Linked DNA regions of Homo sapiens: all the other regions are linked to region 4. The links come from fine-mapping of genetic effects on gene expression. A gene starts in region 4. Each other region holds a variant in brackets. All regions are shown on one strand. Distances are from middle to middle.

Region 1 (5,239 bases), 21 kb before region 4:
TTATAGCCTTAGTGAGTCCTTTCACGCATCCATGTCCACACATCTCTGTTTCTCATCAATACAGCCTGTGTGTTTTGAAAGCATGCAATTTATGCCTTTATATCCCTGCTTCTCTTTTTCCTATCAGCAAAATCTATGTGTTTTTTAGGAATTAAATAAGTATATTTTTCTTATATGTATTGGTCATTTTCTATATTTGAACAGTAAGTTCTACTCAACGTATATCTGTGCTGCAAAATTAATTTTCGTACTCAAATTTTGAATGGTGTTTCTTAAAATGACTTTTTTAACACTTTCTAATGAGGTGGTTTTTATTGGCTGACATATACCATTCCTCTAGAATGTTGCTGTGAACTAGATGTGAATTTATGAAGGTGATGAAAATAGCAATTAAGCTAAGAACTACTTCTGGCAGGTAAGAGCATGGTTAATTATTTTCCTTAAAGAAATGCACAAATATATTAGGTTGGTGCAAAAGTAATGGCATTGAAAGCAATGGCAAAAACCGCAATTACTTTCGCATTAGCCAAATACATAGCCAAACAACTTTTGGAAGCCAGACTAACCTGCTGGACATGCTGAACCAGTTTTAGTCTATTCCAAAAGTGGAAAGCGACATGTATGATTCATTCCTGAGACATTTCAAAGAGCCAAATATGTTTATACATGATATAGCATGTCAATATCTTCATGAAAGCTTTTGACTTGCCTTTTTACAAAAGTCTATATGCTGTTTACAAGTGTGGCTTAAGAACCAGAATGGACATGGACATGCATTGGTAACTGGTCAGCAACCAGGTAAATTCCTGTAGCGTCTTTGCTCCTAGCCTACAAATGGGCTTTTTAAGAATAAGCCTCTCACCAAGAACCCACCAAGAGCATTAAGAAATGAAAACATTGCTCAGACCTCTTTTAGCCTGCTCCCGATCTGGAATCTTGATTAGAGAACTTATTTTTAGAGTTTTCCGCATTTGTTCAACTACATGTGTAGGAGGAAAGAACACAGTATCAGTCCGAATGTGTGTCTGTGACTGTTCTCTCGCAAACTGGGGGCTGGAAGTTTAGGGAAACTGTTTTCTCGGATCCAAGCAGAATCTGGATGTAAACCATTTCTAGACTAATATCGGTTTAATTAATTCTTGTGAATCTCCAAAGATTCTACAGCTTGTTTTGGGATACAGCAATTGTTACACCAACCCACCCAATGTAACCTTTATTTTCTGAGGCCACACTTGGGGATTTTGGGTACATGGATAACAAGTTCCCACCCTGTCCTTTCTTTATAAGGACAACCAACGTGTGAGGTTTCTCCCATTTTCATGGGTCCCGAGTGGCCTCCCAGCCCTGGGAGCTTTCTCACCCTTCTGCCAAGGCTCCAGCCAGGACTCTGCACTAGTTCTCCCCCTGCTCCTGCTGGGGCTCTACTCAAAGTTGATAGGGGTGGGGTAGGGAGAGGGATTCCTACCTCCTTCCTTCTGGTGCTTGTAACAGCTCTCTGAGCTGAAAGCTGGCCCTTAGGCTAACTCAATTTAATCCTCCAAGAGGCAGTCTTTTTCTTTAAGCTTTTCTTCAGTTCTTTATTAAAGACTTAAGTTTTCTCAGAGACTAGGCCAGAGAAACGTTGAACTGTATCATAACAAATAATTCATCACATGCAGACAGCTGCTGTCCTAACACTAGCCACAAATCTTAGTTTTCTGCTACCTTAGATGAATTTCCTGCCCTCCCAGGCAGCCCCATTCACTTTCCCTCAAAATGGCTGGAAAAAGTCTCTTCTTATTTGGTTTAGGAAATATAATCATGGTATTCTAGGGTAATAATCATCACTCCAAATTCTTGTATCATTTCTTCCAAGAAGCTTTGAGACCCTCATGCAAATAATACTCTCTTATTCTGATATCTCTGCCTTTCCAAAGTGAACTTGTAGTTTATATATCTTTCTTTTCCCCTATTTGACTAAGGTGGGCCTTGTCCATACAGAATCTTCAACACTGTCCCAAGCTTCATAGAATTCCCAAGGAACTATAGTATGCACCTATGCCCTGTTCTGCACAGCAACTTGGCACCAGCTTCTTCTTTCCACTAGTCTCAACTTATTACAGTCCTTCCACCCCAACCAACTCCTACACTCAAGATCTTGACTACAGAGCTCTGGAATATTAAAAGCAACCACCACTAGCATACTGTGTGCAGAAAAAAAAAAAGTTTGGAACCCTTGGATTTAAATGATTTAGCAAAGACAGAAAAAAAAAATGTATGCTTTGGAGGCAAAATAAGTAAGATTTTCAAATCAGTATTCAAAAATACTTTTTCATTGTCTATTAATTGCAAACAAAACAGGATTTTAGTTTGTCACCACCATAATCCAAGCCCCTATCATGTCTTGCCTAGACTCCTAAAATAATTTTCCTACTTGTATTCTTTCCACCTCCCAACACATTCTCCACACAATATAGTGCTCTTTTAAAACTAAGTCATGTCACTTCCTTGTTTAAATCCTTTTGATGGCTGCCCATTTGACACAGCATAGAGTCAAACTCCTACCATAATCGTAATGGTAGTAATTAATAATAATAATAGATAAGAATAGTAGTAGGTTACCCCTATTATTCCCTATCATTGGACTTTGTTACTTCCTTCACAACATTAATTTCATTGTATTTACTTACTTGTATGTTGTTTGTCTCCCCAGCTTGAATATGAGCTTTCCAAAAGCATCA[G/A]CACTGTTTGTCTTATGTTGGATCCTTATCTCCCAGCATGGTGCCTGGTACGTATTAAGCAATCAGTAAATGTTTATTAAGAGAATAAAGTTTTAGGATTTAAAAGTAACTTAGAAACCATCGAATCCATCTAGTCCCTTTCCCCAATTCAGGGCTTAATTTTCAGCCCTCTGTAATGCAGAGGCTACTTGGATAGCAGTGTTTATGCTGGTGGAGAACAAAAAAGAACAATAGGGAGGAGCTGTTCCCTTTCCCTAATTGATTTTACCTTACTTGTTCCTACATCAGCTTTGCTTTTTACCACTTAGACAAACAGTCATATGAGTCATTTATTCATAGCCAAGCAGCTTAATCATGCATGTGGGCACTCCTTTTTGTGTGTATGTGGAGGGTGGAGAGTTATAGTTGAGTAGTTTCCAAACTAATGTTCATCTAGCTATTTGTGGAATCGTAAAGATTTTGTCTATTAGAGGCATGAGCCACCGCGCCCAGCCTATGCTCCCTCTAACAATTCTTTAATGTAGTATTTTCTAAATTATAAGCTTTGACTCATCATTGCGTATCATAAAGATAACTATGGTCTCATGAACTTTCGTTTCAGTCATAAATGTGACTGTATGTGTTTGAACTGTCTTGCTATAGATGCAAAATATATTTCTTACTGTGGGAAATAAACAACAAAAGTCTGAAAGCCACTGCCTAAATGAGCATTAATATAATATCTTATCTTAGAAAGGAGACTATTTGGTAGTCCTAGGAGAGGATTTGGGTTGACCTCAGAGCCCTCTTAGTCAGGGCTCTGAAGCTATTATGGATTAAGGTGAATGAGAATGGTAATTCTTTCTTTCTTTCTTTTTTTTTTGAGATGGAGTTGCCCAGGCTGGAGTGCAGTGGCAAGATCTCGGCTCACTGCAACCTCCGCCTCCTAGGTTCAAGCAATTCTCCTGCCTCAGCCTCCCAAGTAGCTGGGATTACAGGCATGTGCCAGCATGCCTGGCTAATTTTTATATTTTTAGTAGAGGCAGGGTTTTGCCATGTTGGCCAGGCTGGTCTCAGACTCCTGATCTCAAGTGATTCACTCACCTCGGCCTCTCAAAGTGCTGGGATTACAGGCATGAACCACCACGTCTAGCCTTTTCTAAGTGAAAGCACTATTTTATAGCTTGCAAACACTGTTAGAAAAATCTTCTGGAAGCACGGTATCAGTTATCTGAAATACATTACAAATACAACAAACACATTATTATTTTCATTAGTTCTCCATTACTTTTTTCCTTTGGCCCAACAGATTAGTACCAAAATGGCCTGGGGTCTAGTAAAAGTTGGGGAACAGGGGAAATGGGTGAAGAGAATTAGGCCCAAAAAGAACATGATGGGCTATCCTTTTTGTGCCAATTTCCTTCTTATCGCTTCTTTTTTTTTTTTTTTTTTTCCTTTTTGAGATGGAGTTTCCCTCTTGTTGCCCAGGCTGGAGTGTAATGGTGCGATCTCGGCTCACCGCAACCTCTGCCTCCTGGGTTCAAGAGATTCTCCTGCCTCAGCCTCCCGAGTAGCTGGGATTACAGGCATGTGCCACCACACCCGGCTAATTTTGTATTTTTAGTAGCGATGGGGTTTCTTCATGTTGGTCAGGCTGGTCTTGAACTCCCGGCCTCAGGTGATCCACCCGCCTCAGCCTCCCAAAGTGCTGGGATTTCAGGAATGAGCCACCGCGCCCAGCCCATGGCTTCTCCTTTTACAGTGAAATAGGAAACAAGATCATCTGCTGAGAATGAGGATGAGGGAGGAGGTATTGAAGGCTTGAGAAAAGAAAAGGCAAGAGGTAGTGGAAGAGTGAATGGACTAAGGAAACATAGTCTGGCTATGGGCAGCATTAAGGGATATGTATTTAAAGCAGGTCCAGTGAACATGTTTACCTGTTCAGCTGTGAGATGCAGTAGTTAGAGAGCTGACTTTTACCAGAGATGAAAGGAAATTCTATTTAGGGAAAGAGAAGAGCATAAACAAAGTTTGAGTACTTGAAATTACATGATGTATAAATATATTTTTAAAAATCTTACAGGCTGGGCGTGGGTGGATCACGAGGTCAGGAGATGGAGACCATCCTGGCTAACATGATGAAACCCAGTCTCTAATAAAAATACAAAAAAAATTAGCCAGGCGTGGTGGCACACGCCTGTAGTCCCAGCTACTCAGGAGGCTGAGGCAGGAGAATCACTTGAACCCGGGAGGTGGAGGTTGCAGTGAGCCGAGATGGCGCCACTGCACTCCAGCTTGGGTGACAGAGGGAGACTCTGTCTCAAAAGAAAAAAAAAAAAGAAATACAAACGTAAGCCAGATAGACATAGTCCCTGACCTTACACAGCTTACTCTCTTAAATAAGCAATCACAATAAAATTTGGTAGGTTCTTAAAAAAGAAAAGATGAAATATAGATAGGATTGTTAGATAAAATATAGGATGCTCAGTTAAGTTTGAATTTCAGATAAATAATGTATAATCTATTAATTACTATAAATA
Region 2 (5,239 bases), 87 kb before region 4:
AGTTGGAAGGTGGAAATTTACGTATTAAGCAAAATCAGAATAAGAAATAGGTTATCTATATATTTCATTCTGAAACCTACAAATACCTTATGCTTTTCAGGTTATGAAAGAGCAAGAACAGTACATTGCCACTCAGTACAAGGAGGCCATAGATTTGGGGCAAGAATTGAGGCTGACCCGGGAGCAGGTGCAGAACTCTCATACAGAATTGGCAGAGGCTCGTCATCAGCAAGTCCAAGCACAGAGAGAAATAGAAAGGCTCTCTAGTGAACTGGAGGATATGAAGCAACTCTCTAAAGAGAAAGTAATCCCTATTTTAAATAATCTTATGTATCTGAAATCTTACAAATATTAGCATTTTTTTTGAACTGTAGAATATAGTTCTTTCAAAAATGAACTGTATTGCACAACAGTGTGAATGTACTTAATCCCACCGAATTATACACTTAAAAATGGTTAAAATGGTCAATTTTGTGTGTATTTTACCACAATTTTAGAAAATAATGAACTGTGTTATATATAGATAACTTTGTAATATAACCAGGAAGTCCTTCAGAACTGAGTTTTGGCTAAACTAGTTCTCAAATTGAGTTATAAAGCACTTTTAGACTTTTAAGTGAGTTCGAGCTCTTACTTGAAGAAAAAATAAAGCTAATCTTTTTTGAGTAAAAATTTTTACATTTGTAGTGACTCTTAAAAATGAAAACTATTGGCTTGGCACGGTGGCTCATACCTGTAATCCCAGTACTTTGGGAGGCCGAGGCAGGCGGATAAGTAAGTCAGGAGTTTGAGACCAGCCTGGCCAATATGGTGAAACACCATCTCTACTAAAAATACAAAAAACAAAATTAGCCAGGCATGATGGTGGGCACCTATAGTCCCAGCTACTCGGGAGGCTAAGGCTGGGGAATCGCTTGAATCCCGAAGGCAGAAGTTGCAGTGAGCTGAAGTCGTGCCACTGCACCCCAGCCTGGGCGACAGAGCAAGACTCCATCTCAAAAAAAAAAAAAAAAAAAAAAAAAAAACATGAAAACTATCCAAATTTGTAACTATTAAATTTGTAACTTTTAGGAAACCTGTAGTTCAAAACCCTTGGTTGATAAAGTAACTTGGAGGTAAAGTGCTTTTAAAAAGCAAAAATACTAATATAAATTTTATTTTTCCAGTATTTGGTAGGAAGTTAACTACTTGGCTTAAAAATATTTACATTGGTATACTTGGGTTAATTATTTAGACTTTAAGAAAAATGTGTTTATTGATGTTGCAAAAAAAAAAAATTCAGCTTTCCATTGTGGTTTCCATGGTTTAATTCAATTCCATAGGAACTGAATTAAAATATTTTTACCTTTAATTTTGGTTAAGCCTACCTATGTTGTTATTCACATTTCTGGATGGTTAGACCAGTAAAGCATACATAGAGAATGTTTATTAGAGATATATTATACATTTGGGGTTCTAGGAAAAGGAAAGCTATCTACTTTTATCTCATTTCTGCCTTTATCAATAGTGTCAAAGTATAGTACAATTGGTTTTTATTTGATAAGCTAAGCTCACTTTAAAAAGTGAATTAAAGTTAGGAATTTTTTAATTGACAGTGTTTTAAATACTTATTTTAACCCAAAACTAAATATATATTGATATGTTTTTCCTTTGATGTAGGGCCAAACCTTGGTTCTTTTTGTATGAGTCATTTGATTAGAATTCTACCTAGTCTTTCTCACATAACTAGACTCCTACCTGGTCTTTCACCACACTATATTCCATCATCTATAGTTTCCAATTCTGCTTTCTTTAAAGTGGAGGAAGAATTAATTAAAAGACATTAATTAAAATTAAAATAATTAAATTAATTAAAATTAAATTAATAAAAATTAATTAATAATAATTAATTAAAAGACATTTGTAAGTGAACCATGTTATATTTTTATGGGACCTCCTACCATATTTTATAACAATTTTGAGTGTTTCTAATTGGATAGCAAAATGTTCATGACTTACTTATTAAGCTGGTTCAAAACATATAACTTAGTTTTTGGATAAAAACTTTGCATTTGCTTATTTCATCATGTTCATAATCTATAATAAAATTACACAATTAAAATTACAAGCACAGTTAGCTAAATTAGCATAAATAAGTTTGAATAAAAACACAACTGACTCTTGATAAACAGACAATATATATAGTGAGCAAAAATATACAGGCATACCTAGCAGTAGACTGTTATCTGCCAGAGTTCAGTGTCCTGAGGTTATTATTAATAGTTCATTTTATAGAAAGCATTGGTTAGTGAACATCTATTTTATGATGACAGCAAACAATTATATTAATACTCTCCCATTAATAGTCTCTGAAATGTCTAGATTTTAAAGCATACTATTTAGTAAGTTAACTTTGTGTCTGTGTTTATATAATATAAAAAATTAAACTACTTCCAATAATGCACTGGATTAGTTTAGCTATAATAACCAAATAAACAAGTTTTATAGCTTTTACTCAATATGTCATTTTTAAGGATGCTCATGGAAACCATTTAGCTGAAGAACTGGGGGCTTCTAAAGTACGTGAAGCTCATTTAGAAGCAAGAATGCAAGCAGAAATCAAGAAATTGTCAGCAGAAGTAGAATCTCTCAAAGAAGCTTATCATATGGAGGTAAAGAAAAATTTAATTTGTTTTGTTAGTGCCCACTAAAGTAGGTTGACCTATCTGGACAAAAGTATGAGTCCAGCTCTTAAGTGTTCATTATTGAATAATACATTGTGGTCTTCATTTCTGGTAGCCTAAACATACAGCTTTCACTTTAATATACTGTGGGGTTAAGAGCTTGAATTCCTGAGCCAGGCAACCTGGTTCTAAACCCTAGCTCACCACGGAGCCACCTGTATCACCTTGGGTAAGTTACTTAACCTGTGTCTAAAATGGATATAATAATAGTATCTACCTCATAGAACTGTGGTGAATATTAAATGAATTAATATATAATATAAAATAGCATTTGTAAAAGATTAACTGGAAATATTTAATAACTGATATAAACCGTTTCATGTGATGTAAATCTATAATGCTTTGCAATTTTCAGCATTTCTTCTTATAATAACTTAGCTAGAGAGATAATACTAGAGCCTTTTTATCTGTCAGCATGTCTTGAGCCTTCACAGAAATGGGCAGTATTATTGACTAGAATAGCATTTTTCATCTTTTTAAAAAC[T/C]ACATTTAAAGATATTACCCAAAATCTCTGTATATGATTTAAATAAATTACTTACGTTTAGTGCTAATAAAGCGTTTTTTCTAATACGGCAAGGGTTGCAAATATTTATGTTAAACTCCATTCAAGGGAGTTTGGTGACATTTTTGTGAGTGATTGGTAGGGCTTGTGGGGACCATGTCTTGCTTAAATACATTTAGAATCATATCTCTTTGAAAGCATTGTGCCTGCCAAACAAAACATATTTACAAGCTGAATCTAATCCTAAGGCTAAGAATTTGCAACCTTTGATCTTTAGCGACAAACCTGAATGAATGCTGTTGGACTCAGCATAATTATATAATTGTTATTAACAGCTCAGCTTAGTAACTATCAGTAATAATTAGGCGCTTTCAAGTGTTTGCCCTTAACTACTCATTACACTTTCATTATATGGCCTCTGTTCTGTTTTTAAGTATAATTATCCAATTGTTTCTTTTAGTTTTATAAGCCACCTGAAATTATAAATAGATTGTACATAAAATAAATTGTAAAATTAGTTCAGTATTGCTATCTTTTTAAAAAAGTGATGGGGTCTGTGTTGCTCAGACTGGCCTCAAATTCCAGAGCTCAGATAACCCTCCCCACTCAGCCTCTAAGTAGCTGGGAGTAAAAGCACACGCCAGCCGGGCGCAGTGGCTCACACCTGTAATCCCAGTGCTTTGGGAGGCCAAGGCAGGTGGATCTCTTGAGGTCAGGAGTTCGAGACCAGCCTGACCAACATGGCAAAACCCCGTCTCTACTAAAAATACAAAAATTAGCTGGGTGTGGTGGCGCATGCCTATAATCCCAGCTACTCAGGAGGCTAAGGCAGCAGAATTGCTTGAACCTGGGAGGCAGAGGTTGCAGTAAGCCAAGATCGCGCCATTGCAGTCAAGTCTGCGTGACAAGAGTGAAACTCCGTCTCAAAAAAAATAAGTACATGCTGCTGCATTTTAATATTTAATATTACTATTTAATATTTGATACTAATATTTTGTCTATAATATTGAAGTATATATTTTTACCTGTTTGGAAGTTGATAAAAATTTACTTTTAAAATATATATGTTGTTTGAATATAAAAATGAGAGGATATGGTATTAAAGTAATAGAGAGCTAGAAAAGAGGATCAATAATTTTTAACAGTTTTTTTTATTATACTTTCTTTTTTTTTTAATACATTAAGTTCTGGGGTACGTGTGCAGAACATGCAGTTTTGTTACATAGGTATACACATGCCATGGTGGTTTGCTGTACCCATCAACCTGTCACCTACATTAGGTATTTCTCCTAATGTTATCCCTCCTCTAATCCCCCACCACCCAACAGGCCCCGATGTGTGATGTTCCCCTCCCTAGGTCTATGTGTTCTCATTGTTTAACTCCCACTTATGAGTGAGAACATGCGGTGTTTGGTTTTCTGTTCTTGTGATAATTTGCTGAGAATGATGGTTTCCAGCTTCATCCATGTCCCTGCAAAGGACGTGAACTCATCCTTTTTTATGGCTGCATAGTATTCCATGGTGTATATGTGCCACATTTTCTTTATCCAGTCTATTATTGATGGACATTTGGGTTGGTTCCAAGTCTTTGTTATTGTGAATAGTGCTGCAATAAACATACATGTGCATGTGTCTTTATAGTAGAATGATTTATAATCCTTTGGGTATATACCCAGTAATGGGATGGCTGGGTCAAATGGTATTTCCAGTTCGAGATCAACAGTATTTTTTAATATATAGGTTTCCAAATTGTCAGAAAATCACTTAATAATAAATGTAAAACTCCTGACTTATTGGAGGAGAATGAGATTGTTTTAACCTTTAATTGTGAAAAATTTAAATATATTTAAAAATAGAATAGTATAAATAGTATATACATCCTCATATTTATTTTTGAACGTTAATAATTTTCAATGCATAGCCAATTTATTTCATCCATAAATACATTGACCATTTTCTTTATCTAAAAGAGAATACTTTTGAGAATGAAAAGGAATGCTATAGTAATTACATG
Region 3 (5,239 bases), 270 kb before region 4:
ATGCTCATTTGCCATCTGAACATCAAAGGGTCCTTAAGAATTATATTAAATCTACCCTACCTGTGCTCTACCAATGGAACAACAAAGCAGACAACCGCGCATCTGATTATAGCATGGTTTACTGAATATTTTAAGCCCACTGTTGAGACCTACTGCTCAGAGAAAAAGATTTCTTTCAAAATATTACTGTTCATTGACAATGCACCTAGTTGCCCAGGAGCTCTGATGAAGATGAATGTTGTACAAGGAGATGAATGTTGTTTTCATGCCTGCTAACACAACATCCATTCAGCAGCTGTGAATCAAGGATTAATTTTGACTTTCAAGTCTTATTATTTAAGAAATACATTTTGTAAGGTGATGGCTACCTTAGATAGTGTTTCCTCTGATGTATCTGGGCAAAGTAAATTGAAAACCACCTGGAAAGGATTCACCATTCTAGATGCCATTAAGAATATTCACGATTCAGCTGGGCGCAGTGGTTCACACCTGTAATTCCAGCACTTTGGGAGGCCAAGGTGGGCGGATCATGAGGTCAAGAGATCGAGACCATCCTGGCTAACACAGTGAAACCCCGTCTCTACTAAAAATACAAAAATTAGCCAGGCGTGGCAGTGGGCGCCTGTAGTCCCAGCTACTTGGGAGGCTGAGGCAGGAGAATGGCGTGAACCCGGGAGGCAGAGCTTGCAGTGAGCCGAGATTGCGCCACTGCACTTCAGCCTGGGCGACAGAGCAAGACTTCTTCTCAAAAAAATAAAATAAATAAATAAAAAATAACAAATAAAAAAGAATATTCACGATTCATGGGAGGAGGTCAAAATATCAACATTAACAGGAGTTTGGAAGAAGTTGATCCTAAATTTCATGGATGACTTGGAGGGAGTCCTTCAGTGGAGGAAGTCACTGCAGATGTGGTAGAAAGAGCAAGAGAACTAGAATTAGAAGTGGAGGCTGAAGATATGCCTTAATTGCTACAATCTTATGATCAAACTTGAACAGATGAGGAGTTGCTTCTCATGAATGAGCAAAGAAAGTGGTTTCTTTTTTCTTTTCAAGTATTTTAAAAATTGAAGTAAAATCCAGGTAACATAAAAGTAACCATTTTAAGGTGAATAGTTCAATGGCATTTAGTACATTCACACTTGTGCAATCATCTCCTCTATCTAGTTCCAAAACATTTTCATTACACCAAAGGGAAACCCCATACCCATTAAGCTGTTACTCACTTCTTATCCTTCCCGATATGATTTGGCTCTGGGTCCCCACTCAAATTTCATGTTGAATTGTCATCCCCAGTGTTGGGGGAGGGGCCTGGTGGGAGATGATTGGATCATGGGGGCAGATTTCCCCCTTGCTGTTCTCATGATAGTGAGTTCTCACAAGATCTGATTGTTTAAAAGTATGTAGCACCTTCCCTCTGGCTCTCTCTCTCTATCCCCTGCTGGCCTTGTGAGGATGTGCTTACCTCCCTTTCACCTTTCACCATAATTCCTGAGGCCTCCCTAGCCATGCTTCACATATAGCCTGTGGAACTGTGAGTCAATTAAACCTCTTTTCTTTATAAATTACACAGTCTCAGGTAGATCTTTATGGCAACGTGAGAATGGGCTAACACATCCCCTCCCCCAGCCCTTGGCAATCACTGTTCTAAGGAAAGTGGTTTCTTGAGATGAAACCTACTCCAGTGAAGATGCTGTGAACATTGTTGAAATGACAGGCTGGGCATGGTGCCTCACACCTGTAATCCCAGCACTATGGGAGGCTGAGGTGGGTGGATCACTTGAGGTCAGGAGTTGAAGACCAGCCTGGCTAACATGGTGAAACCCCGTCTCTACTAAAAATACAAAAATTAGCCAGGCATGGTGGCACGTGCCTGTAATCCCAGCTACTCAGGAGGCTGAGGCAGGAGAATCGCTTGAACCTGGGAGGCAGAGGTTGCAGTGAGTGGAGATTGGGCCATTGCACTCCAGTCTAGGTGACAGAGTGAGAGTCCATCTCAAAAAAATAAATAAATAAATTATGAGAAAGGATTTGGAATATTATATAAACTTAGATGATAAAGCAGCAGGGTTTGAGAGGATTGACTCCAATTTTTTTTTTTTTTTTTTTTTGAGACAGGGTCAGCCGGG[C/A]ATGGTGGCTCATGCCTGTAATCCCATCACTCTGGGAGGCTGAGGTGGGTGGATCGCCTGAGGTCAGGAGTTCGAGACCAGCCTGGCCAACATAATGAAATGCTGTCTCTACTAAAAATACAAAAAATTAGCTGGGTGTGGTGGTAGGCACCTGTAATCCCAGGTACTAGGGAGGCTGAAGCAGTATAATTGCTTGAACCCAGGAGGCGGGGGTTGCAATGAGCCAAGATCACACCATTGCACTCCAGCCTGGGAAACAAGAGCGAAACTCCGCCTCAAAAAAAAAAAAAAAAAAAGTCTCACTCCAGGCTGGAGTGCAGTGGCATGAACACAACTCACTGCAGCCTTGACCTCCCAGGCTCAAGCCATCTTCCCTCCTCAGTCTCCCAAGTATCTGGGACTACTGACATGTAACACCATGCCTAGCTAATTTATTTTTATTATTTTTATTTTTTGTAGTGAAGGGGTCTCGCCATGGTACCTAGGCTGGTCTGGAACTCCTGGACTTAAGTAACCCTTTTGCCTCAACCTTCCAAAGTGCTGGGATTACAGGTGTGAGCCACCTGACCCAGCCAATTTTTGAAAGTTCTACTGTGAGTAAAATGCTATCAAACAGCATCATATGCTACCAAGTAATCTTTTGTGAAAGGAACAGTCAATCGATGTAGCACACTTCATTGTTGTCTTGTTTTAAGAAATTGCCACAGCCACCCCACAAACCTTTAGCAATCACCACCCTGATCAGTCAGCAGCCGTCAACATGGAAGCAAGACCCTCCATCAGCAAAAAGACTATGACTTGCTGAAGGCTCAGATAATTTTTAACATTTTTTTTTAGCAATAAAGTATTTTTAAATTAAGATTTGTTTAAAGAAATAATGCTATTGAACACTTAATAGACTACAGTATAGTGTAAACATGACTTTTATATGTACTGAGAAACCAAAAAAATTCATGTGACTATTTGCTTTTTGTGGTGGTCTGCTACCGATCCTGCAGATTAATACAGGTATGCCTGTATTAACAAATCTAGATTGTATCAGTCAGAGTAGGCTAAAATATGCTGGGTAGCAGACAACTCCAAACTGCAGTGGCTAATACAACAAAAGTTTGTTTCACCATTTGAACATTCACATGCAAAAAAAAAATTTTTTTTGAGACAGGGTCTTGCTTTGTTGCCCAGGCTACTGCTCAGTGGCAAGATCACAGCTCACTGCAGCCTCAACCTCCCAGGCTTAATTGATCCTCCCACCTCAGCCTCCAAAGTACCTGGGACTACAAGTGCACACCACCATGCCCAGTTAATTTTTTTTTTTTGTATTTTTTGTAGCGACAGGGTTTTGCCATGTTGCCCAGGGTGGTCTCAAACTCCTGGGCTCAAGCAATCCTCCCACCTCAGCCTCTCAAAGTGTTGGGATTACAGGCAGAAGCCACCACACCCAGCCACAAGAAGATTAATACAGACCTATACCTCTCACACTGTGCACAAAAAATAACTCGAAATGGATCATAGACTTACATATAAGAGCTAAACCTATAAACTTCTGAAGAAAACATAATAGAAAATAGACTTTGGTAAAATAATTCTTAGTTATAACACCAAAAGCATATGGTATTTAAAAAAAGATAAATAGGATTTCATTGAACTTAAAATAAATTTTTTTCCCTTCAAAATACATTAAGCCCTGGCAAGGGTGGCTTGCACCTGTAATCCCAGTTACTTGAGAGGCTGAGGTGGGAGGATGGCTTGAGGCCAAGAGTTCCAGGCCAGCCTGGGCTACATATAGAGATCCCATCTCTAAAAGAATTAAAACAAAATTAGCTGGGAGTGGTGGTGTGCACCTGTAGTCTCAGCTACTTGAGAAGCTAATATGGGAGGATTGCTTGAGCCTAGGAGTTTGAGGTTATGGTGGGCTATGATCAGTGCCACTACACTCCAGGCTGGGCAACAGAGTGAGACCTTGTTTCTGGGGGAAAAAGAAAAGACATCATTATGAAAAATGAAAAGACAAGTCATAAAGTCATAGACAGGAAGACAATATTTGCAAATCATGCTTCTGTTAAAGAACCTAAATCTAGAATATATAAAGAACTCTTACAAGTTGATATAAGAAGATTGTCCAGTTAAAAAATACATAAAATATTTGAGTAGGCACTTCACTAAAGAAGATATAAGAATGGCTAACAAACCAAAGATGCTCAATAGCACTAGCCATTAGGGAAACCACAATGAACCACTTCACTCCCACTGTTTTAAATTATTATAATAATTTTTTTTTTTTTTTTGGCCAGGTGCAGTGGCTCATGCCTGTAATCCCAGCACTTTGGGAGGCCGAGGCAGGCAGATCACAAGGTCAGGAATTTGAGACCAGCCTGACCAACATGGTGAAACCCAGTCTCTACTAAAAATACAAAAATTAGCCGGGCGTGGTGGCACGTGCCTGTAATCCCAGCTATTCAGGAGGCTGAGGCAGGAGAATCGCTTGAACTCAGGAGGCAGAGGTTGCAGTAAGCCAAGATTGTGCCACTGCACTCCAGCCTGGGTGACAGAGAGAGACTCCATCTAAAAAAAAAAAAAATTATTATTTTTTTAGAGACAAGGTTTCACTGTATTGCCCTGGCTGGTCTCAAACTTCTGGGCTCAAGCAATCCTCCAGCCTTGGCCTCCCAAAGTGCTAGGATTACAGGTGTGAGCCACCATGCCTAGCAATCCCTACTGTTATGAGTGAAATCAGAAAGATAGACAAGTATCAGTGAGGATATTGGGAAACTGGAAGGCTTACATATTGCTTACACTTTGGAAAACAGTTTGGCAGTATCTTAAAATGTTAAACATAAACTTATCATACAACTCTGTAATTCCACTTCTAGGGATCTACTCAAGAAAAATAAAAAACGAATGTCCATACAAAGATTTGTACACAAATGTTCATAGCAGTCTTATTTATAATAGCCCCAGATTGAAAACAACATAAATGTCCTTCAACTGGCGAATGGATAAACAAAATGTAGTACATTCATTCAAATGGAGTCTATTTGGCAATAAAAAGAAATAACTACTGACTGGTACAACGTAGATGAACCTAAAAAATATTCTGAGTGAAAGAACCC
Region 4 (5,239 bases):
GCCACGTATGTAATAAACTAGTTACATGGTTCATTACTAGTTGAAGACTGACCAAGCCTGATAAAGATGATAAAAGACACTAACATTATATAACACTTCATACTATAAAAAGTACTTTCACACAACTCTCATTTGATTTTGAATCCTGTGTGTTACATAATATTTCTATATCTGAACTGAAGAAAATGAGGCTTGGAGAGTGACTTGTCTAAGTAAAAAAAAAAGCTGGGACTGGAACCTACAACTCTTACTACACATTCAATTCTGTTTATGCTACCACAGAAGCCTGTAGCAATAAACTATTACTGAAATAATGTGTGCTCTACTCGTCTATTTAGCATAAGTCTATAAACATAAATGTTACATGAAAAAGCAAAGTTATAGTTTTTTCAGGAGAGACAAGATAAGGGTCAGTGACACTGTGACAACTTGGGACATTTTTTGCCAGCCAGCTTTTTCAGACGGATAAACTTGTTAAGGTCAAGATAAATTTAGGCACCATAATAAATCTTTAAATCAACAGTAAACTGACAAAAAAAAACAAACCCACCACTTCATAAAGTATTTTTTTTTTTTTGAGATAGAGTCGTGCTCTGTCTCCCAGGCTGGAGTGTAGTGGTACGATCTTGGCTCACTACAAGTTTTGCCTCCAGAGTTCAAGCGATTCTCCTGTCTCAGCCTCCCAAGTAACTGGGATTACAGGTGCCCACCACCACACCCAGCTAATTTTTGTATTTTTAGAAGAGGTGAGGTTTCACCATGTTGGCCAGGCTGGTCTCGAACTCCTGAGCTTAAGTGATCCGCCCCCCTTGGCCTCTCAAAAGTGCTGGTATTACAAGCATGAGCCACCATGCCCAGCCTGAAGAAAATTTAATTAAAATACTGTTTTTAATCAAAGAAATTTTGTTTTGACTAAATTTAGTAGCACTGAAAAACAAGTGTCTACACTTCAGAAATTAAAGAACCAGTAAGTTGTCCTGCAGAAAATGCTAAATGAAAAAATAGCATAATAAACTGTAATGTCTTCTTGAGAGCAGCATATAGGGCTCAGACAGAACGTTTTAAGAAAACACTGTCAACAAGCCAGTTGCCATCATATGTATCAAGAGTAATGAATCTGATGAACCAAAGTGACAAAATGGATTTCAACAGTGTCTTGTTTAGTTTTTAGAAATTCCAACATCCCACTATTTATAGTATAGCCTCTTCTTCCACATGACAGTATGACAGACTCAGTTTTTTTACTTTTTTTTTTTTTTTATCTTTTTTGAGACAAAGAATCTTGTTCTGTCACCCAGGCTGGAAGTGCAGTGGCACAACCGCAACTCACTGCAGCCTTGACCCCCTGGCTCAATCGATCCTCCCACCTCGCCCTCCAGAGTAGCCGGGACTACGGGTGCCTGCCACCAAGCCTGGTGAAAAAAAAACCCGTGTTTCATATTGTCATATAGAAGAGGCTATACTATAAACAGTGGGATGTTGGAATATATATTTATATATATAAATATATATTATATATATATATATATATATTTTTTTTTTTTGTAGGGACGGGTCTCACTATGTTGCCCAGGCGGGTCTTGAACTCCTGGGCTCATGTGATCCCCCTGCCTCAGCCTCCCAAAGTGTTGGGTTTACAGGTATGATGAGCCACAACGCCTGGCTGACACACTTTTTTTTTTTTTAAATGCAATTTCTGTTTAGACCTTGACACCTGTTGATATTACTAGTCACTATGGAAAGAAGTAAAAACAGTTGCTTAAGATGCTCTAACACTTTTTTCCCCTGTAGAAGCCAACATGGAATACAACATGAAAACTGTCTAAATGGGAACCTTCTAATATAGCTCATTGTATGCCATGCATTTCCACTCCATTTCCACTATGTTGGAACTGACTTCTGCTTTCCTACTTAGCCATTAGGCGACTTAGTTGCCTCTAGGCAAGTAACTTCTCTGAAATGTTTCATTTTTCATGAAGTTTAAAAAAAAAAAGGTGAAGGACTTTAGAGAGCTTTGAACCGAATAAGGTCTATCAGACATCTTGAAAAGCTTTTTCTCCAGACGACGCAGAAACAGGCACACGGGGTTCTGCTTTCCCCACCTCCCACCCCCAAGCCCAGGTCCCATTCTTCTCACTTTCAATCCTCATTTGGGCTCCTAAAGGAATAGCAAAGAGAGTTATTTTATCAATACCAGCGCTCCTCTGTCCCCAAATCCAGCTAGGGAAGGTTTCGGAGGCCTCAGCTACTTGAGAGAGGGTAGAGACGATCCTTCCTCGCCTATCTACCCAGCCACCCACCCCTTCCCAGATGTAGCGTCCGGGCCCCAGACCAAGCGCGTGCTTGGAGCTCTCCGGTACAGTGAGGCGCGCGCTTGCCTGGCTAGGGTCCCTGTGAAGGAATGGGATCCCGAGGTGCTTGCCAGGACCGTAGCAGGCGGAAGCTGCTGGCAGCGCGAACGGGCGGCTCCCGCCGGCGTGGGTGGGGGAAGGGCGGCAGCCACACCCGGAAGTCGGTCCGGGAGGGAGGGGGAAATCTGAGGGAACGAGGCTTCCGGTGGCGCAAAGGGTGTCGGGAGCGGCTTCCTGCAAACCTTCCCTGGCATCTGGAGGGACCACCGTTGCCGCGTCTTCGGCTTCCACGATCTGCGTTCGGGCTACGCGGCCACGGCGGCAGCCACTGCGACTCCCACTGTGCCTGGCTCTGTCCATATTAGTTCCCAGGCGGCCGTCGCCGTTCCAGCAGCGGCAGCGGCAGCGGCAGCGGCGGACATGTTGTGAGGCGGCGGCGCGGGTGTCTGAAGGATGGTTTGGCCGAGGCGGCGGCAACGGCTGCTGGCGGCGGCGGCAGCGGCAGCGGGGCCTCGGGCTCTATAGAGCCGAGCCCGCTGGGTACCCGCCCGGTACCGCGGCGAGGCCAGTGCCCCTGGATCTTGCCTCTGCTCCGACGCCGTTGGGGACCAGTTAGGCGACAGCGCCCGCCCCTCTGAGGAGACACGAAGGTGGTTCCCCAGCCGCTCAAATTTCCGGACCACCGCGCTTTCCCCTCCTCAGCCTGGGCTGTGCTCTCTCTAGAATCCTCGGGCCCCCACTTTCTTCCCAAACTCATCCTAAATCTCTCACACACGCGAGTGTTCCCAGCCCTCAAGCCAGCTGCTCCTCCGTTCATTTTCTGCACCCTCTTCGCAAAGCACCCCCCGGGATCACTCTCCGAGGGCGACTTTTTGAGAAATCTCGGTGGAGTAGTGGACCAGAGCTGGGGAGTTTTTAAAAGCCGGGGCGCGAGAAACAGGAAGGTACTATGGCTTCCTCGTCTGGCAACGATGATGATCTCACTATCCCCAGAGCTGCTATCAATAAAATGATCAAAGAGACTCTTCCTAATGTCCGGGTGGCCAACGATGCTCGAGAGCTGGTGGTGAACTGCTGCACTGAATTCATTCACCTTATATCTTCTGAAGCCAATGAGATTTGTAACAAATCGGAAAAGAAGACCATCTCACCAGAGCATGTCATACAAGGTAAGTCGTGTGTGAGAGCTGGTTTGAATGAGGTTCTAGGGTAGCAGTCTGCTAATCGCGTGACCCTTTCGTGTCAAAGCCTCCATTCCTCTTCCCTGGTAAGTAACTTAATGAAAAAGCCAGACTGGCATGTAGGCAGCCGGTGCTTTAAAAACAATCCCTTTGTAGCATTTTTGCAGTACTTTTCATCCAGCGAATACATGTAAGGAGTGCAAACATTTAGGTCAGCGTCCCCAAAACGTAAAGAATAAGAGTGATCTCACTTTACAGCCAGGTAAGCCGAAGCAACAAGAATTACTTGCCTGAAGTTGAACTTAGATAATAATTAAGGAACGCAGAAATTCTCCTTTGGAAAGTTAAAATTCAGACGGAGGAACTTCAACGTGGGTGGAGACAGAGCACCCCCTTCCCCACCTGACCTTTCACCAATGTAGAGGAAAAGATTTATTTTCTGAACACATGAGTTAAAAAATTCTTAACATACAATGTGTTCAACGTTGTCAAGTTTATCGTTGTTAAATAAAAGGTGTATGTTTTCTGCTCTAAAAATGGTTTGATGGTACGTTCATGAATGAGTTACCAAATAACTCCTGTTCCATTCTGTAAGAATAGGGTGAACTTTAAATTTTCGTTTTTTTCTTTTCGTTTGCTTTTATGTCGTTTGCTTTGTTCTATTCTGTGGAGATAAGTTTTGAAATCTTTGATTGAAAGTTTATGCAAGTTTTTTTTTTAACGGAAAATTTCCCCGTCCTTTCCTGCTGTCATTCCTATTTGAATGTATACACTTAGGCTTTTATGGAACAGCACTTCTGAAAACTTCAACAGTTTCTTTTATCCTGGAAAGGATTTGGTCCCGTAATAGGGATTTGGGGGACTGTATTCTGGTGGTTTCAGAGAGGAGAAACATATTTACTATTCATAATGTTTCGGGAACGTACCTTTTGCGATATTTTTACATGTACTCTTGTGAAAGAGTTGTACTCAATTTGAGGTGAGAACTTGCCTTTTGTAATAATCTAATTAAAGTTATTGATTGCTTGTGAAATCAGGGAAAAATGATTAATTTTAATCATTTTGATAGGCAGGTGGTTGTCTATCACTTAATTTTTATAATTTAACTTTTTAAAATGTGACTTTCCTGTTGTACTGAAGTAGAGAACACATCTGCTTATATTGACCATATCCAATATTTTACTCTCAGTATTGACAAAAGGATTAAATGATTCATTTTTAATCCTTTATGACGTCTTGAAAGTAGTTTTAAAATATATCCTGCCATTTCAGTACACAAGCAGAAAAATCCCTAGGAAAAAGCATATTTGATTCTTAAAACTAGTACTAGTTTTTTTTTTTTCTACTTGTTTGGTGTGCTGAATACTCTAGCAAGTAAAATGAAAGCCAAGTTGTCTATTTTTTCCCTTGTGTATTTATTTTTACATTGTATGTGTGATTGCTGTCATAAGTCTTTCACAAGATTATCCAGCACAGATAGCTATAATTTCTTTTTACAACTCTTAAAAAGGAAAAAGAACCTTTATCAACATTGCCTTTCTAATGAAAATTGCAAAAGATTTCAGCAGGGTCTGCCTAAACATTTGTTTACACTACAGAAGTGGGGATCGTTCCAAAAACCTAATAACACATTACAGTCTGTCTTCTTGGGGAGAGTTGATTCTTTTCTAGGATATATTTAGATTTCTGATTGACATGATGGAATAG
Region 5 (5,239 bases), 48 kb after region 4:
TCTATTTGATTCACACATAACAATATTAACCTTAAATGTAAATGGGCTAAATGCTCCAATTAAAAGACACAGACTGGCAAATTGGATAAAGAGTCAAGACCCATCATTGTGCTGTATTCAAGAGACCCATCTCAAATGCAGAGACACACATAGGCTCAAAATAAAGGGATGGAGGAAGATCTACCAGCCAAATGGAAAACAAAAAAAAGCAGGGGTTGCGATCCTAGTCTCTGATAAAACAAAGATCCAAAGAGACAAAAAGGCTCAAAATAAAGGCTCAAAATAAAGGGATGGAGGAAGATCTACCAACCAAATGGAAAACAAAAAAAAGCAGGGGTTGCAATCCTAGTCTCTGATAAAACAAAGATCCAAAGAGACAAAAAGGCCATTACATAATGGTAAAGGGATCAATTCAACAAGAAGAACTAACTGTCCTAAGTATATATGCACCCAATACAGGAGCACCCAGATTCATACAGCAAGTCCTTAGAGGCCTACAAAGAGACTTAGACTCCCACACAATAGTACCGGGAGACTTTAACACCCCACTGTCAACATTAGACAGATCAACGAGACAGAAAGTTAACAAGGATATCCAGGAATTGAACTTAGCTCTGCACCAAGCTGACCTAATAGACTTCTACAGAACTCTCCACCCCAAATCAACAGAATATACATTCTTCTCAGCACCACATCACACTTATTCCAAAATTGACCACGTAGTTGGAAGTAAAGCACTCCTCAGCAAATGTAAAAGAACAGAAATTATAACAAACTGTCTCTCAGACCACAGTGCAATCAAACTAGAACTGAGGATTAAGAAACTCACTCAAAACCACTCGACTACATGGAAACTGAACAACCTGCTCCTGAATGACTACTGGGTACATAACGAAATGAAGGCAGAAATAAAGATGTTCTTTGAAACCAACGAGAACAAAGACACAACATACCAGAATCTCTGGGACACATTCAAAGCAGTGTGTAGAGGGAAATTTATAGCACTAAATGCCCTAAGAGAAAGCAGGAAAGATCTAAAATTGACACCCTACCATCATAATTAAAAGAGCTAGAGAAGCAAGAGCAAACACATTCAAAAGCTAGCAGAAGGCAAGAAATAACTAAGATCACGACAGAACTGAAGGAGATAGAGACACAGAAAACCCTTAAAAAAATCAATGAATCCAGGAGCTGGTGTTTAGAAAAGATCAACAAAATTGATAGACCGCTAGCAAGACTAATAAAGAAGAAAAGTAGAAATTTCTTACTCACGTAAAAATTTAATGGTTATCAGGGAGACAGATGTTAATGGGAGATTGGAAGGCAGTGGTTGGAGCAAACTATCTTTGCTAATGTAGTCAATCAACATCTAGCTGGTAGAAGGGGAAAGAGAGAGAGAGAGAGCAGCATGCAGATCGTGCATGGGTAGTTTTTATGGGCCTGATCAGGAGTAGCATAAGTTACTTTCACTCACATTCTGTTGCTCTGAATTCATTCTACACAGCCACACCTAATTTCAAGGGATGCTTTTCATCCATGAAGAAGAGTAAGTGGGTTTGGTAAACAGCTAGTTGATCTGTAATTCTATGATGGATATAAAATTTCTAAAATACTTAGATTCATTTTTTGTAAAATAAAAAGAGCAAAGTCACAGGTCTACTTTTAAAGTTAGTATCTAAACTGCAAAAAAAAAAATGTATTTTTTGTGAGGGCAGTCCATTGAGATTTGGGTTTGAAACATCTTTAGTTATAGCAAGCAGGCAGTAGCAATCTGACAGACTTTTCTGGTTTATAGTTGGTGTGTCGCAAGGTTGTTTATACATGAGCTTCAGCTCATAGAACTTCAGGATAAAGAGAGTTTCAATTTTAGTGAGTCCAAGTCAGAAAAATGGAAGAAAAATTTAGAAACATTAGTTTGGAGACTTATAGCCAGGAAAGAATTCAGGATTCGGGATTTCCTGCAAGGAAAATAATAAAATCCCCAAAACAATGGACAGGGTTAGGAATTTATAACAGGTACATGAAAGTTTTCTTCTGAAACATAGTTTTTCTCTCTTTAGTTCCCTACTTCTAACAAAGATAAATCATAGAAAGACCAATCTATTTGTAAAATTATGTTTTAGTCTTATACCTGGCCTGATTATTTGCATAAAGTAAGTAAGAATAGTGATTTATCACACAGGCTCTTTTAAGTTGGTTTGTTGGAACATTTTCATAAAAAATCTCAGATTAGACTTTCTAAAAGCTTAGGAGCCAGAGCTGAGTGTGATGGTTCATGCCTGTAATCCCAGCACTTTGGGAGACCGAGGTGGGTGGATTGCTGGAGCTCAGAAGCTAGAGATCAGCCTGGGCAACATGGCGAAACACCATCTCCACCAAAAAAATAATAATAATAAAAATAAAAAAATTTAAAAAAAGTAAAAAAGCTTAGGAGCCAAG[C/A]CAAACACTATAATACCTGTACGAAAACTTCGGTGAATACCTTTCTTCTCAAGGTCCTCAAAATACATTGAGGTTCCTGGGTCTGTCCAAAAGTGAGATTCTTTACTTACTTCAAGGTCAGGGACCTTGTAAGGGAACTGTGTAGACAAGGTACCAGGTCAGTCTTTTTCCAAGTCTATTGGCTTTCTAAAGTGAACCTCAATTCCTCAAAACAGTCTAGTCATTTCTAAAAATACGACATTCCAGTCTAATCCTCAGTAATCAGCATTTCAAATTGTGTACTATTACAAAAGAAAACAAATTCTTACGAATCTATGCAAATAATTATATTGTCATAAAATAACACTACTTGCAAATAGTTTCTAAATTTTGGAGGGATCAAATAAAGAGGTAAATATTTGAATTTGGCTCACAAAAGTATACTTTACTTAATTGGTGTAAGCTATAAATAGCTTAAAAGAAAAATGTTTACTCTGGGGAAAAAAGAATCAGCAATGTTTCAAATAAAAAGTTATGGTTAAAAAACAATTTCAGTTTTTCATCAGTTCAGTCTCATGTACTTAAGTATTGTTCCGTGTGATTATACATTAGCAATTTTATGAGTCCACTTTTGTTCTATTAGTGTTCCAAAATTGTTTTACCCCATCTAATGATTCAATCTTGATTTCTTTAAAAAATTTTTTAAAGGATGAGCTTGCTGTTAAAAAAAAAAAAGAAAAAACAAATTTTTAAAATAGAGATGAAGTCTCGCTATGTTGCTCAGGCTGGTCTTGAACTCTGGGCCTCAAGCGATCCTCCCATCTTGGCCTCCCAAAGTGCTGGGACTACAGACATGATTCAGTCTTAAAGTCATCAGAAACATGTATTCAAGATTATTTGTTGTAGTCTTTTCCATGAATTTCCTTAAAGACAAAACTTTAAAACTTATAAAGAGAGAGGCTGAGGCAGGCGGATCACCTGAGGTCAGGAGTTTGAGACCAGCCCGGCCAACATGGCGAAACCCCCGTCTGTACTAAAAATACAGAAAATTAGTTGGGTGTGGTGGCACACACCTATAGTCCCAGCTACTCAGGAGGCTGAGGCACTAGAATCACTTGCACCTGGGAGGCGGAGGTTGCAGTGAGCCGAGATCACGCTGTTGCACTCCCGCCTGGGGAACAGAAAAAAGAACTTTCAGAAAACAAGAGCATAAGCATAAAGCCACAGATGCTTAATTGCGGACAATAAGACTTAAAGTAACCATGATTAAAGATGCAATTGACAAGGAAATTTGGTCATTTTTTTTGTGGCCTACAACTTTACACAATATCCATAATTGTGACTAATAACACATACCAGGACATACCAGATTTTTAAGAATCTCATTCCATTTTGGAACACATACTAACACATTTATACAAATATGACTCGCAAAAGGCTAAACATTATTTCTTATTTCACAATCCTTCCTGCATGATTTTAACATACCAAATAAGCCTAATATGTCTCTCTTGTACTTCCAGGGACCCTTCTGGAGTGTCCAAAAGTTAGCTTGAAGTCAAAAAGACTTAATTTAGAATTTGAAATTTGATTTTAGAAAGCCTGTCAAATATGTCAAAGATTTAAAACACTGGAACAGAAATAGGATCATAGGTCATTCATTTAGCAAAACTGATAATTAAAATAATTCAAAAAGCAAAAATCTTTTCTTTATGTTAGAGAGGGGACTCAGTTTTCTAAACTATCAAAAGGCCTAATAAAGACAGCTGGAGGCAAACAGAGTCTATCTGTCCTTCTCTTACTGTGTGCCCACTTTTTTGCAATTTACGAAAAATGAGCAACAATTTTTTTTTTTACTCATTAATACTACGCAAAAATCTTTTTCAAAAGAGAAAAGCAAATTTTATTTATTTTAATTTTTTTAGAGACAAGAGTCTCACTCTATCACTCAGGCTGGAGTACAGTGGTATGATTATAGCTCACTGTAACCTTGATCTCTTGAGCTCAAGCAATCTTTCCACCTTACAACCTCCTGAATAGCTAGGACTACAGGCACATTCCACTGTGCTTGGCTAATTTATACTTTTTTTTTTGCAGAGATGAGGTCTTGCTCTGTTGCCCAATCATGGCTCACTGAAACCTCACCTCCTAGACTCAAGCAATCCTCCCACCTCAGCTCCCCAAGTAGCTGGGACTACAGGCATGTGCTTCCATACCCAGCTAATTTTTGTTTCTTACTTTTTGTAAAGACAAGGCCTCCCTGTGTTGCCCAGGCTTGTCTCGAACTCCTGAGCTCAAGCAGTCCTGCTGCCTTGGCCTTCCAAAGTGCTGGGATTACAGGCGTGAACCACTGCACTTGGCCTTGCCGACAATTTAAAAACTAGTTTTTCTTTGCCAGATATTACTAAATTGACATGAACTTGAAAAGCATTTTGGCTGATTATTTAATTTATGAACACTCATTTATTTAAAAGTCAATTTGGTACCATGTAGATAATATAAAAAGGCAGCCATGTACACATGTATGCATAAAATACAGACAAACATAAGTAAAGATTTTATAGCATTGATTTAAAAATTTTAGCAATAAGACAGGTAAAACTCACATAAAGGGCAGTTGAATTCAAACTCTGTCATTGTAAATGGAACGAGTTAAAGTTTATCTGTCCCACATATTCAAAGCCCTTATAAGGGTTTTTTTTGTTTTGTTTTTTGTTTTGTTTTGTTTTTTTTTAGAGAAAACAGTGTAGCACATTTATATCTCACAGCACAAAGAGAATTTAAGCTTTCTGAAGAAGAAGTCAGGGTGTGTTAGAGAAAG
Region 6 (5,239 bases), 150 kb before region 4:
CCTGGCTAGTTTTTGTATTGTCTTTTTGTAGAGATGGAGTTTTGCCATGTTGCCCAGGCTGATTTTGAACTCCTGGACTCAAGCGATCCACCCACCTCCCAAAGTGCTGGGATGACAGGATTGAGCTACCGCGCCTGGCCCTGTGATTTTTATTTAGGAGGTATTCTCAACATTATTTTTTGCACTTCTATTAAATCTTTTATTTTGGCTGTCATACTTTTTTCGGTTTCTGAAGTTTTTTTTTGTTCCGATTGTTTTGTATTTCATAACATACTAATGTAGTATTCTCTCTTAGCACTCTGAAGATTTAATGATTTTTTTTTCATGTTTGCTTTACTTTCCTTTTTCTTTTGTTTAGGCCTCTGACTTTTATGTTAGAAGCTTTTGGGCCGGGCACGGCGGCTCACGCCTGTAATTCCAGAACTTTGGGAATCTGAGGTGGGCAGATCACGAGGTTAAGAGATCGAGACCATCCTGGCCAACATGGTGAAACCCCGTCTCTACTAAAAATACAAAAATTAGCTGGGCGTGGTGATGTGTGCCTGTAGTCCCAACTACTCGGGAGGCTGAGGCAGGAGAATTGCTTGAACCCAGAGGCGGAGGTTGCAGTGAGCCGAGATCGCGCCACTGCACTCCAGCCTGGTGACAGAGTGAGACTCCATCTCAAAAAAAAGAAGATTTTTTCAGGTGTTAGTATTTTAGCTATTCATATTTAAGAGAAAGGCATTTAAATGCAGATTGGTGGTTTGTTGTCCAGTGGACTTTATTTCTGGGTGATGGTTAGGGAGGTGGTTCTTTTGTAGGGAAACACCTGCCAGCCCCCAAACAGTATCAGTATGAGATGTTTTTCTTTCCCTTTTTTTTTTTTTAACATAAACTCAAGATTTTATTGTCTTCATAATAAAACAAAAGATAACACTTAGAACTGGGTCACTTGGCTCTTTCTGCTCTTACCTCCTCCCAGTTGAGAAAGCTTGCATCTTTTAATACTCAGCATTCTCTTAGATCTGCAGTTGGGCTCAGTGCACTCAAGCCTTAGCACAATCTTCTTTGTAGTTTCAGCCTTTTTCTGGAAAATCTACTTAGTCTGCCCACCATAACCACTCTGCTTCCTGTCATATCGACACTTTCCCTGGGCATACAGAGAATCCTTGCCCTTCTTGTACTGTGTCACTTTCTAGGGTTGGTGCTTGCCACACTTCTTACAGAAAGTCCTGCAGGTTTTAGGAATGTTCACCATGTTTGCGGGAGTGCTATCAGCAAGGAGATTTTTTTTTTTTTTTTGGAGCAATTGAGTTTCTCCAGCAAAGAATCCTTTAGTTTCTCACCTGTGGGATAACCCAAAATGAAATTGAGTAGTAAGGTGGGGCTAACCGTTTTATATTAATTCCCTTGTTACAGCTGTACTTCATTCCTGCTCATTACTCTTAGTGTCTCACAGTCTCAAGCTTCTTCTGTTCAGTTTCTTCTGATAATAAACTTTCTGCCTCTTTCCTAGTATGCCAACACCTTGCTATTGGTGTTCTGGGAGTGGGAAAAAGAGGATGACTGTTACTTGCAGATACTTTGAACTGTATCCCTGGTTTTTCATTGGGTCCTCACTTCTGCCCTCTACAGTACCTTGTGCCTTCATGTTCTAAACTTCTTTTTCAGTGATAGTTATCTTATTGATACTCTCTTCTATACCATTTAGATTGTGGGTTCCCACCCTGCTATAGTAGTTGTACTCTCTTTATTATACAGATTGTAGGGTTATTATGCTTTTCTGTATTTAGATTCTTCCTAGTAAGCATGTATTCTATAATTAGGTTTTTAAATCATAAAAATTCAATAAATATTTTCTTTTATAATTGTTTATAGTTTGATATTTTATGTTTAATTTTCTAATTTATGTAAAATAAATCTTGCTAGATGCTTATCAATAGAGATTCTATTTTCTCCCCTAAATAACTCTTCAGTTATAAGTTGAAGGTAATGCCAGGAGCTTACATGCCAAGGCTGGCTTATAATGATGATATGCCCATGTAAATGTTGATCAAAGGAATAGATGGGAAGCTTTATATCTGACCAATGATTTGGGAGCCCTATTGAACACCCTCATCTGACAGGAAAAAAACTAAGGACCAAGTAGGTTAATTTATTTTCTGAAAGTACTATAAAAGTTGTTTTTATGTTTTAGGTTTCTATGCTTGAGTCTGCTCAACAGCAGGCAGCCAGTGTCCCAATCTTAGAAGAACAGATTATAAATTTGGAAGCAGAGGTTTCAGCTCAAGATAAAGTTTTGAGGTAAATATACTTTTTATAGCTCTCAAAGTTTTATTTTCTACTTATACATTTTATTATATCTTGTTAAATCTTGTTCCCCACACCCAATAAATTTACAGTAACCTAATGGTGTTCAGCTGTCTTAGAACTTGTTGAATCTATTTTTAGTCAATCATAACTCCTCTTGGCT[G/A]TAGGTTGCATGTAGTATATAGGGGCTAAAAAGACTAAGGTGAGATGCCTATTTACATGCTTTTATCAAACATGAATTAGTTCATTTCTTCACCTACATAGAAGTATATACTCAGTGTTTCAAAGGGAGTTCAAGAAATAAAATGTAAAGGAGTCAGACACTTTTATTATTTTTACAGAAAGGGTCTCACTGCGTCACCTAGGCTGGAGTGCAGTGGTACAGTATGGCTCACTGCAGCCTCAGCCTCCTGGGTTCAAGTGATCATTCTGCCTCAGCCTCCCAAGGAGGTGGGACTACAGGCACGCACCCACTGTGCCCAGCTAAGCTTTTTATTTTTTATTTTGTAGAGACAGGGTCTCACTATGTTGGTCAGGCTGGTCTCAAACTCCTGGCCTCAAGCAGTCGTCCTGCCTCGGCCTCCCAAAGTGTTGGGATTGCAGGCATGAGCTGCCATGCCTTGCCATCAGGCACTTTATAATTTATTCTCTTCTGCTTTGAATAAAATGGGAAATATATGCATATTAAATAACATATTACTCTGAGTGATTCCGAAAGTATAGTTAAAGGACCAGCAGTAGTAGCATCACCTGGGAACTTGTTAGAAATGCAAATTCTCAGGTCTTATCTCTGGCATACTGAACCAAGTTGGGAGGGGTTTCACAAGTTCTGCAAATGATGCTGCTGCACACTGAAGTTGTCTTTTATGTCCATCAGAGTTTTGTAATTTTCTTTGTAATACATATATTATTTTAAATTTGTAGGTATTTTATATTTTTGGCAATTGTGAATTGTTCCTACTTTGTTCATTGCTAGTGTATGGGAAGGTTACCGACTTTTGTATAATATAATTATTTTGTAATTGGTAGCTAATGGTATTATCAGCAAATAAAAAAAATTTTGTTTCTGAGTCAAAGAGTAGGAAAAAGAAAGAAAGAAAAAAAATTTTGTCTTTCCTTTTCAGCATTTATACTACTTATTACCTTTTCATATTTGCTTTTTGCAGTGGGTAGAACTGTCAGAAAAGTTGTTGGATGTGGGGGTGATAACAGTCATCTTTATTTAGTTTCTGAACTATACAGGAATGCTTCTGGTATCTGACTATAAAATACGATGTGAGTTATTACTTCAGATATATTTATCATCTGGTGGAAGTATTCTTTTATTCTTTAAAAAACTCTTAATTAACAAGTGATGAATATGCCTTTTTCTCTATCTCTTTTTGTATATTGTTTCTCTTAACTCATTGATTTAAACAAATATAATTCCTAATATTAAATTATTCTTGCATACCTGGGATAATCTCTTTAGTAGTCTTAAACAAAGTATCCTTTATTTTATAGAGAGGCAGAAAATAAGCTGGAACAGAGCCAGAAAATGGTAATTGAAAAGGAACAGAGTTTGCAGGAGTCCAAAGAGGAATGTATAAAATTAAAGGTGGACTTACTTGAACAAACCAAACAAGGAAAAAGGTATGTGTTTTTAAAGCAAATACATGTTTTTGAAAGGGAATAAAAGGAAATATTACCTATTTAAAATTCTAGTTAATTTTTGAAGTGAAAAAATTTCAGAGATTTGGCAATAAATTAACTTAATGTTCTTTTTTATCTATTAATTTTTTTAAATTTTCCATTAAAATGTTTATATGTGGAATTTATGTTATTAGCATCCTGGATTGGGCTTAATTTCTACAAAACTGATAACGATTATCAGTTTAATGATACTTATTTCTGAAATTAAGTTCTATGGCCTATTTGAAACCAGTACACTGAGTTTAAAATACTAACAGGGAAAAAGCCTGTAAATTAATATTACCTCTAATAAAACTAAATAAAATGTTGAATGAACTCTTTAAAAGAAAATTTTGCCTCATAGAGAAAGAAACTCAATGCCTGTGAATGTGTGCTTGGATCTTCCTTTAGAAATATATAAATAGTACAAAAATATCTATTTTGTATAAATTATATCTTGAGATCAAGTCTTTTAAGTAGCTCTGTCCAAGGAACCATTAACTCTGAATGCCAGTTCACTTTTAAACTGATAAAGATTTAAATTTTTTGAGTTTAAACTAATAAGATTTTATAATAAAATAGGATTATAGCAGTTGTTATACAGTATAAAGTCATAATCTGTACTAAGCAATTTTGCAATTTTGCAATTTTGCAATTTGCAATATTGCTTAGTAGAAAATGCGTAGGTTTTGGAGTTAGAAAATTTTTAGATTTTACCTCTCATTGGCTTTGTTACCTTGGCCAAATGATATAACCTTTTGAAATCTCAGGTTTTTTTCATCTGTTAAATAAAGATGATATTATCTTGATATGGATAGAAATGAAGAGTAAATGAAAAAAAGAAATGTACCTCTTAAAAAATACTAACAATTTAACTATTTTATAAACTTTGTGGTTAAATACTCTAGAATTCACACTTCACTTACTCAGATAAGCTTTGCACGTGGTTAGTTAAAATAGTGAGATAATAATACATGAAGACCACATTCACAATATAGCTGCCAAGAAAAAATAAAGAGGAAGAGCTACTAGTTTCCTCTATGCAACTTAGATAAGAGATGACTTTTAGGATAGAGTATTGACTTTGTTGTTGTTGTTGTTGTTTGAGATGGAGTCTTACTCTGTCTCGCAGGCTGGAGTGCAGTGGTGTGATCTTGGCTCACTGCATCCTCCGCCCCCTGGGTTCAAGCAGTTCTTCTTTCTCAGCTTCCTGAGTAGCTGAGATTACAGGCATGCACTACCACACCCAGCTAATTATTGTATTTTTAGTAGAGAC

What was found. PIP is the estimated chance that this variant, and not a neighbour inherited with it, causes the effect.
Region 1: its variant is fine-mapped to the expression of CCDC18-AS1 in whole blood (TOPMed, PIP above 0.99).
Region 2: its variant is fine-mapped to the expression of CCDC18-AS1 in whole blood (TOPMed, PIP above 0.99).
Region 3: its variant is fine-mapped to the expression of CCDC18-AS1 in whole blood (TOPMed, PIP above 0.99).
Region 5: its variant is fine-mapped to the expression of CCDC18-AS1 in aorta (GTEx, PIP above 0.99). The same link has a PIP of 0.9 or more in testis.
Region 6: its variant is fine-mapped to the expression of CCDC18-AS1 in sun-exposed skin (GTEx, PIP 0.92).

What each region holds. Positions count from the first base shown.
Region 1 is chr1:93,321,966-93,327,204 of GRCh38, forward strand. CCDC18-AS1 (CCDC18 antisense RNA 1) reads right to left here. Exons shown (of 9, transcript NR_034089.1): 6 at 4,637-4,697; 7 at 3,804-3,930; 8 at 2,670-2,764. Among named protein-coding and RNA genes, the nearest start is that of CCDC18-AS1, 21 kb to the right of the region's middle. The variant G/A (reference allele first, on the strand shown) is at 2,721.
Region 2 is chr1:93,256,235-93,261,473 of GRCh38, forward strand. CCDC18 (coiled-coil domain containing 18) reads left to right here. Exons shown (of 29, transcript NM_001378204.1): 25 at 101-304; 26 at 2,514-2,651. Among named protein-coding and RNA genes, the nearest start is that of CCDC18, 78 kb to the left of the region's middle. The variant T/C (reference allele first, on the strand shown) is at 3,208.
Region 3 is chr1:93,071,033-93,076,271 of GRCh38, forward strand. No RefSeq gene overlaps it. Among named protein-coding and RNA genes, the nearest start is that of MTF2, 5.6 kb to the right of the region's middle. The variant C/A (reference allele first, on the strand shown) is at 2,130.
Region 4 is chr1:93,343,346-93,348,584 of GRCh38, forward strand. CCDC18-AS1 (CCDC18 antisense RNA 1) reads right to left here and starts at 2,466. Exons shown (of 9, transcript NR_034089.1): 1 at 2,379-2,466. It overlaps DR1 (down-regulator of transcription 1), which reads left to right and starts at 2,562. Exons shown (of 3, transcript NM_001938.3): 1 at 2,562-3,520. The coding sequence starts at 3,301. RefSeq lists enhancers at 2,157-2,692, 3,062-3,131, 3,192-3,401.
Region 5 is chr1:93,390,885-93,396,123 of GRCh38, forward strand. No RefSeq gene overlaps it. Among named protein-coding and RNA genes, the nearest start is that of DR1, 48 kb to the left of the region's middle. The variant C/A (reference allele first, on the strand shown) is at 2,440.
Region 6 is chr1:93,189,821-93,195,059 of GRCh38, forward strand. It overlaps CCDC18 (coiled-coil domain containing 18), which reads left to right. Exons shown (of 29, transcript NM_001378204.1): 5 at 2,180-2,286; 6 at 3,796-3,924. It also overlaps the pseudogene RPL36AP11. Among named protein-coding and RNA genes, the nearest start is that of CCDC18, 12 kb to the left of the region's middle. The variant G/A (reference allele first, on the strand shown) is at 2,456.